Homo sapiens: one gene and its partner. The protein of the gene in region 1 purifies or fractionates together with the protein of each later gene. This does not show direct contact. Each region holds a gene or a part of one and is shown on either strand. Other genes may lie near its edges. The genes, in order: DNAAF1 and ANKMY2.

What was found.
Region 2: the proteins of DNAAF1 (region 1) and ANKMY2 purify together in Homo sapiens (affinity purification with mass spectrometry; one large-scale study listed by BioGRID and IntAct). This does not show direct contact.

What each region holds. Positions count from the first base shown.
Region 1 is NC_000016.10:84,169,110-84,172,930, reverse strand, and holds part of DNAAF1 (dynein axonemal assembly factor 1), read right to left. Parts: intron 3,073-3,821; coding exon 2,575-3,072; intron 672-2,574; coding exon 556-671; intron 1-555. UniProt on the Homo sapiens protein: Cilium-specific protein required for the stability of the ciliary architecture. Plays a role in cytoplasmic preassembly of dynein arms. Involved in regulation of microtubule-based cilia and actin-based brush border microvilli.
Region 2 is NC_000007.14:16,607,600-16,611,420, forward strand, and holds part of ANKMY2 (ankyrin repeat and MYND domain-containing protein 2), read right to left. Parts: intron 3,165-3,821; coding exon 2,950-3,164; intron 2,167-2,949; coding exon 2,031-2,166; intron 1-2,030. UniProt on the Homo sapiens protein: May be involved in the trafficking of signaling proteins to the cilia.

The DNA of each region.
Region 1 (3,821 bases):
GAAGAGCTTCAGGGAAGAGTGACAGGCAAGGCTGCGATCAAACATTCACTCAAGGGGATGGGACACTGAACCGTCACACCTCCATGAGCCAGAAGGCCAGTGAGAGCCTAAGCTACCTGCTGGGCGGTGTCCACGGAGGGGGGAAAAGATACAATGTATAAAGATACAATGTAACTGATGATACAATGTAACTCTCACCACGAATTTGGATAAGGCAACTAGTCAGAACCACTTAGCAAGATAGCTTCTTTGGCAAAAAGGAATCAAGAGTTTGGTAGACATGGTTCAAGGGTAGCGATTTGGGTCAGGGCTCCCCAAACTTGAGCATGCATGTGCACGAATCACCTAGGGCAGTGCATGAAAGTTGGATTCTAATCAGTGGGCCTGGGGTGAGGCCTGGGAGTCTGCATTTCTAACCAGCGCCCCAGAAATGCCAGGCCTGCCGGCCCAAGGACCACACTTGGGGTATCGAGGGTCTCCAAAGTCTGCATCTGATTACCTATTTTACTAACAGTAAAACTGATACTTATCTCCAAGATTAAATACTTCATGTACATCAATGCAGAATGTCTCCTTTGTCTCCAGTCTAATGGTTTCTAAATCTTCCGTTCTCGTTCCATCAAGTTCTGTAACGAATACACCCTCAGTGGCCACAGCCTGGGGAGTCGGTTCTAAAGAGCAACAACAAGTCTTGGAGTTAGTTTAACACACGGCAGGCAGATGGACGAGCCTACGGTGAAGATGGGCTCCCAAGGGCCGGGCTCGGTGGCTCATGCCTGTAATCCCAACACTTTGGGGGGCCAAGGTGGGCGGATCACAAGGTCAGAAGTTTGAGTCCAGCCTGGCCAACACAGTGAAACCCCCGTGTCTATTAAAAATGCAAAAATTAGCCAGGTGTGGTGGCGGGCACCTGTAGTCTCAGCTACTTGGGAGGCTGAGGCAGGAGAATAGCTTGAACCTGGGAGAGGGAGGTTGCAATGAGCCGAGATTGTGCCACTGCACTCCAGCCTGGGTGATAGAGCGAGACTTCATCTCAAAAAAAAAAAAAAAAGACAAAAACCCTCCTCAGGGCCCAAAGGCCAGCCTCCATGACAAACACGGCAGCTCACCACAGGCTTCTGTCTGCTGGAAAAAGAACGGAACGGCTGCCCTTTTCTGTAATCTGGAGGCGAATCCCATGAGATGAAGAGCACCGGCCAGGAGTCAAAGCAGCAGCCGCAGGAATCTTGGAAATGGCAGCCGACTGCAGGGTGACAAGGGATGCCAGCAGGGGCGACTCGCTCAGAGACGGAGGGGCAGGCTTCACAGCCCACCGCCAGCCTGTCCCTCAGCCAGGCACACGCCCCTCCTGCTGCACCAGGGTCAGAGCTTGTGCAGTTTCATAACTGTGAGATCGCCTGAGGAATGTGGAATCGCGAGGAGCCCCTTCCTCATCCAGGCCCCTACTTTTCCTTTTTATTTACTTATTTTTATTTTGTTGATACAGGGTCTCACTCTGTCACCCCGGCTGGAGTGCAGTGGTGCAATCTCAGCTCACTGCAGCCTCGACCTCCCATCCCCTTCCCCTCCCACCTCAGCCTCCCAAGTAGCTGGGACTACAAGTGGTCACCACTATGCCCAGCTAATTTATTGTTTTTTGTAGAGGCTTGGGGGTTGCGGGGAAGGGGGCTTCTCACTATGTTGGCCAGGCTGGTCTCGAACTCCCGGCCTCAAGCAATCTGCCTGCCTCGGCCTCCCACAGTGCTGGGATTACATGTGTGAGCCACCTCGCAAGGCCTGCCCCTACTTTTCCCCCGGGCTGTATCCTTGGGTCCTGTGCTCTGATCCCTCCATTGCTCTCGGGGCTTCGTTTATGTCAGAGATGAATGGCCTACCTTTCACCAGTAAAAAGTTACCGTTCAGCCATGTCAAATACATACTGGATTTTGATGACTTAATTTTTGAAAAAAGTAAAATAGCTCACTGATAATTTTTATATTGATTCCATGTTAACATGATTATATTTTTTATATATTGCGTTAAATTAAACATGTCATTAATAGTTTTACTGTTTTTTTACTTTTTACTTTTTAATTAATTTATTAATCAATTTATTTTTTGAGGGAGGGTCTCACTCTGTCACCCAGGCTGGAGTGCAGTGGCACAATCTTGGCTCACTGCAGCCTCAACCTCTGGGGCTCAAGCAATCCTCTTGCCTCAGCCTCCTGAGTAGCTGGGACTACAGGGGCACACCACAATTCCCAGCTAATTTTTGTAGTTTTGGTAGGGATGAGGTCTCTGTATTTCTGAGGCTGGTCTGAAACTCCTGGCCTCAATCAGTCCTTCTGCCTTGGCCTCCCAAAGTTCCTTTTGCTTTTTTAAATAGAGCTATTAGAGAATCTAGTAGTGGCTCCTGTTCCATTTCTGTTGGGCAGCCCTGTTCTAGAAAACAAGATAACTAGTGTCCATTATCTTCTAGAAACAGCAATACAGAAGAAGTGAAACTCAGGCCCCAGGTCCCACAGAGACGTGAGTCGAAGGCTGGGGCTCCCTGAGAGGTGTGTGTGTCTGTGTGTGTTTCTCCGCTCACATTACCTTCCCTGGCAGCTCCCAGGGGCGGTGGTGGTGGGGCCTCAGCTGGGAGGGTCCCCTCTGGCTCTCGATCTCCATCCTCTCCTTTAACCTTCACAGGCGGTGACAGTAGCAGGGTCTCAGCTGGGAGGGTCCCCTCTGGCTCTTGATCTCCATCCTCTCCTTTAACCTCCACAGGTGGCGGGGGTGGTGGGGCCTCAGCTGGGAGGGTCCCCTCTGGCTCTCCATCTCCGTCCTCTCCTTTAACCTCCACAGGTGACGACAGTAGCAGGGTCTCAGCTGGGAGGGTCCCCTCTGGCTCTGGACCTCCATCCTCTCTTTTAGCCTCCACAGGCGGCTCCTCTCCACTTGGCTTTTCCGGGCAGAGCTCGTCCTTGGCCTCAAAGCTTTCCTTAACAAATAGCTCCATCTTCTGCCTTGTTTCTCTGTCCCCGGGAGGCTCCTCCTTGCCTTCCGCACTGGCGGGCACATTCTCACCATCATCTGAAGATGTCATCTCCCCTAATGGCAGAAAATGCAAAGGTGAATGTGGGAGTGTCCTGGGAGGACAAGGGTGTTTGTGGGTACATCAAGGGCTCACAGCAAACTTCTGAGACCAGGGAAAAGGTCAGGAACACAGTTAAAAAAGTGTCCTCAAGGGGCTGGGCGCGGTGGCTCGTGCCTGTAATCCCAGCACTTTGGGAGGCCGAGGAGGGTGGATCACTTGAGGCCAGGAGTTCAAAACCAGGCTGGCCAACATGACGAAACCCCATCTCCACTAAAAATACAAAAAATTACTCGGATGTGGTGGCACGTGCCTGTAGCCCCAGCTACTCAAGAGGCTGAGGCAGGAGAATCGCTTGAACCTGGGAGGTGGAGGCTGCAGTGAGCCAAGATCGCGCCACTGCACTCCAGCCTGGGAGACAGAGCGAGACTCTGTCTCCAAAAAAAATTATAAATAAATAAGGAACATAGTTTAAAAAGTGTCCTCGAGGCGCTGGGCATGGTAGCTCATGCTTGTAATCCCAGCATTTTGGGAGGCCCAGGCAGGTGGATCATTTGACATCAGGAGTTCAAAACCAGCCTGACAAACATGGTGAAACCTCATCTCTAGTGAAAAAAAAATACAAAAAAATAATAATAGCTGGGCGGGGTGGCACATGCCTATAATCCCAGCTACTAGAGAGACTGAGGCAGGAGAAGCGCTTGAACCCAGGAGACAGAGGTTGCAGTGAGTCACCGCATTGTAGTCTGGGTGATGAAGTGAGACT
Region 2 (3,821 bases), on another chromosome or scaffold:
TATAAACTCTAATTACATTATTCTATTATATGGAGCTAGGATAACTTGTTGACCACAATATTGACCTGCTTTTTTTTTTTTTTTTTTTTTTTAAAGAACTCTGGGTTGCTGTTTTAGTTTTTCTGTTTTTTCCCAGGAAGGTAAAAGGTCAGCAACCATTTGTGAGTGCTGGAAATCCCACATAACAGGTACTGCTAGTTGCTTCTCTGATATCAATTCTCCCAGCTTCCTCAGTAACAGAAGTGTAATTTTGTTCAGAGGAGGAGTGTTTAGAAAAGCCAAAAAAAAAAATTTTCCTGGACTCCTGTGTAGCTAAGGAAAGTCATGTGACACAGGCAGAGGGCTTCTGGGAGAGCTTATGTTTTCCAGATATAGACCCCTTTGCTCTTCCTGCCTGCCTGGGATAGGAATGTGAGCTGGAGGAGGAACATCAAATGCCTCGTAACCATGAGATCATAAGTATGCATATGAGAACCTACACAGCTAAGGAATATTGGAAGGGAAAGATGAGAAAGTGTTTGGGTCCCCAAACTATTTTTAAGTCACTATGCCAGACCTAGTCTGCCTACCTTTGGGCATCTATGTATATGTGAATACATAAACCCTCATCTATTTAATTCATGGTTGGTTGGGCTTTGATATGTGCTGCCAAGACACATTTGTAATTGACAAATCATAATTTGCTAACTTTATTCTTCCAAAAGCATAAACACTAAATAGCCAACTATATTAAAAAGTATGAGTAAAGAAACTCTTGAAAATAGGGGGAGCACACATGAACAAATTAATGCATGAGCTTTATGAGATGGTCTTTTCTGCTCAGGTCTTTCTTGTTTATTTTATGGCTCAGACTAGGTGAATTCTTAATGTACAAAGGAGCATCTGGAGCCCACTTGAAGCCCTGATGTTCCACACTGAGAATGACATAACAACCCAGAGAGAAGGCACAGAGAAGGGAACCAGATTTGCCAGAGGGAGGGAGGAAGCCATGGATGGGACTGGTCTTAGGATCAATTTCTTGCCTGATAGACAAAAGCTGATCAAGTTTTTGATTGAAACGTATAAAAGCATGAATGGGTATAGATAGGGTAAACAAAAACCTATTCAAAATAGAAAAGGTGGCTGGGCGCAGTGGGTCATGCCTGTAATCCCAGCACTTTGGGAAGCCGAGGTGGGTAGATCACCTGAGTCAGGAGTTCGAGACCAACCTGGTCAACATGGTGAAATCCCATCTCTACTAAAAATACAAAAATTAGCTGGGCGTGGTGGCGCGCACCTATAGTCCCAGCCACTCAGGAGGCTGAAGCAGGAGAATCGCTTGAACCTGGGAAATGGAGGTTGCAGTGAGCTGAGATTGTGCCACTGCACTCCAGCCTAGGCGACAGAAACAGACTCTGTCGCAAAATAGAAAAGGCCAAATAAATTAAAATATATGACAAATGAATAGTAAGTCATTTAAATAACAGATAAAGTTAACAAAATACACTTATATAGTGGGTAAGTATAAATAGGTTGTAAGTATGGACATTTTCTAATCAGAGGCATTAAGGTGGATTATAGGAAGCTGAGGCATACTTTGAGATTGTTACCAGGAACCACAATGAGCCTTCCCATGGCTTATCCCACTACATCCCCACTGCCTGGACACTATCCCCCTAGGTGATCAATTCATACTTGCATCTAGTGTATGACTTTGTGCTGATAATTCATATAGCTACAAGTGTACATGTGTGTACCTATATTACATAGTGGATGTACTTAAAATGTAAGTTTCTACCCTAACCATCTACATTTCAACATAGCGACGTCCTGTTTATGAAACTATGAACCATAATAAGGTAAGAAGAGGATCGTGAGATGGGAAATAAATAAACAGGAACAGGTTTGGCAGGCAAACCTATCTCCACCTTTGTTCCTAAAAATATTCTGAAATAATAAAAATAAATATTAAAGAGAACTTGCCTTTAACAATACAATAGGTGGGAATTAGGTTTTACTGATAGAGTCAACTTAGGTAAGAGGAGCCTTACAATTTCAACAGGAGCAATGCTTCGAACCAGCTGCTGGAGGAGTGTAGCTTCACAGTAAGGAAATTTTCTGATACTTTCTCTAATGATCTTTTCTTGATACACTGGAAAGCCATCAGAAGCTCGGCCTTTTAACAAGCTGAAAGATATTTTTTAAAGCGTAATTGGAGTTGAATCACTAAGCATTCTCTCCTAGTTGAACCCAACAGTTTTTAGTAGTTTCTTCTGTTACTTATGATTTTCTTTGTCTCTTCAAATCATGATGACGGGCTCAGTTCAAATTGCTGTTCAACCTATATGTTAGGCTAGGCCTTATAAGGTTTTCCAGCCCATTAAATGAATATGCAAAGGTGACTACCACCATAAAACACACTAAACACTGTTATCAGATTAGCTAGTTACTTATTACCATGTCAGTTATTTGTACTAAGAATGAAAACTCTCATAGAGCCACACCCTTCAGACTTAGTTCCCTTTTCTAGGTAAGGATGCAAGAGAATTTGATCTCTGGTGGTCAGAGAAGCAGCATAACACACAGCTCTCCAAGATACAGTAACAGAGACACCCTGGATGCCATTACAAACCTAGGGCTGCGACCTAGGGCATAAAATATTCTCAAATTTGGACTTGGGCCACTTTCTCGCGGTGTGATCTTACACATGTTATTTAACCTCTCCAAACCTCAGATTCCTCATCTGTAAATTGCTGGTAACAACAAAAACATCACAGTAAAGGATACAGAACTGAATAATCACTCAATATAAGTATAATATTATTCTCTGTTTGTCAAAGACTAAATGTGAGTCCAACAACAGCAATTGCTGCCAAAATGTTTAATTTTGAAACACATAATAATGAGGCTTCATATTAAAAAAAATATTCACTTGAGTGTATTTTATAAACGACATAGTAAAAAGAGTACCTTTTGATCAAGGTGTCCAGTTTATTCTCTCCATCTTTTAAGAAGTTAATGCATTTCTGAAAGATACAGCTTATGTAATGCATCTTCATAGCCAATACTTCATTCATGTCTCTTTGCTTCATACATTTCTCACAAATCAAATCCATCACTCTGTAGCATTTATTCAGGGCTGCTTCTTCTGTCAGCAGAGGATTCTCATTTACAAGCATCACGATCTAGAGGAAATCCCAGTGTACTCAGGTATTAAAGGAGACACTTGTTCATGTACAAATTAGGTAGTCCATTTAGTTGATTTCAAAAGATTACCAAAGAAAGCCTTCCTTAGGATCATGAAGTTATTATGTTATTTGTTAGAATGCAAATTACCCAGAACTTATAGAACTAATATAGAAAGACCCTGAAATAGTGGAATCTCTTGAACTCTGTATATCAAAGTTATAATGTGATCTTCCATCTACCTACACCACAGTGCCAGTATGCCATTCAAGAGCACATGATTTTACAGTCTCTGTTAAATTCACTTTTACTAAAGATAAACATGACAAATTTGTACATTTTACATAAAGAATCAAATCATTGAGCAATAACCACTTTTAGTTAACATTACTCAGCTCTAGAATTTCATGGCTAGGAGAACTACAATTCTCATTAATTCTTATTAAGCACAAGAAAATGAGATTTTTTCAGAATGAAGTCTAAAAATGAAATATGCTTTACTTTCCAATTAACTATATTTCTCTATGGAAATTTTCCTGAAGATGCTTCCAATCATCTACAGTAATGAGAACAGGTCAAAGAGGAAGCCATAAATAACTTTAAAGGGGAAATATTAGAATGATCAAATCTTACACGTTATGAGTCCCACATTTCCT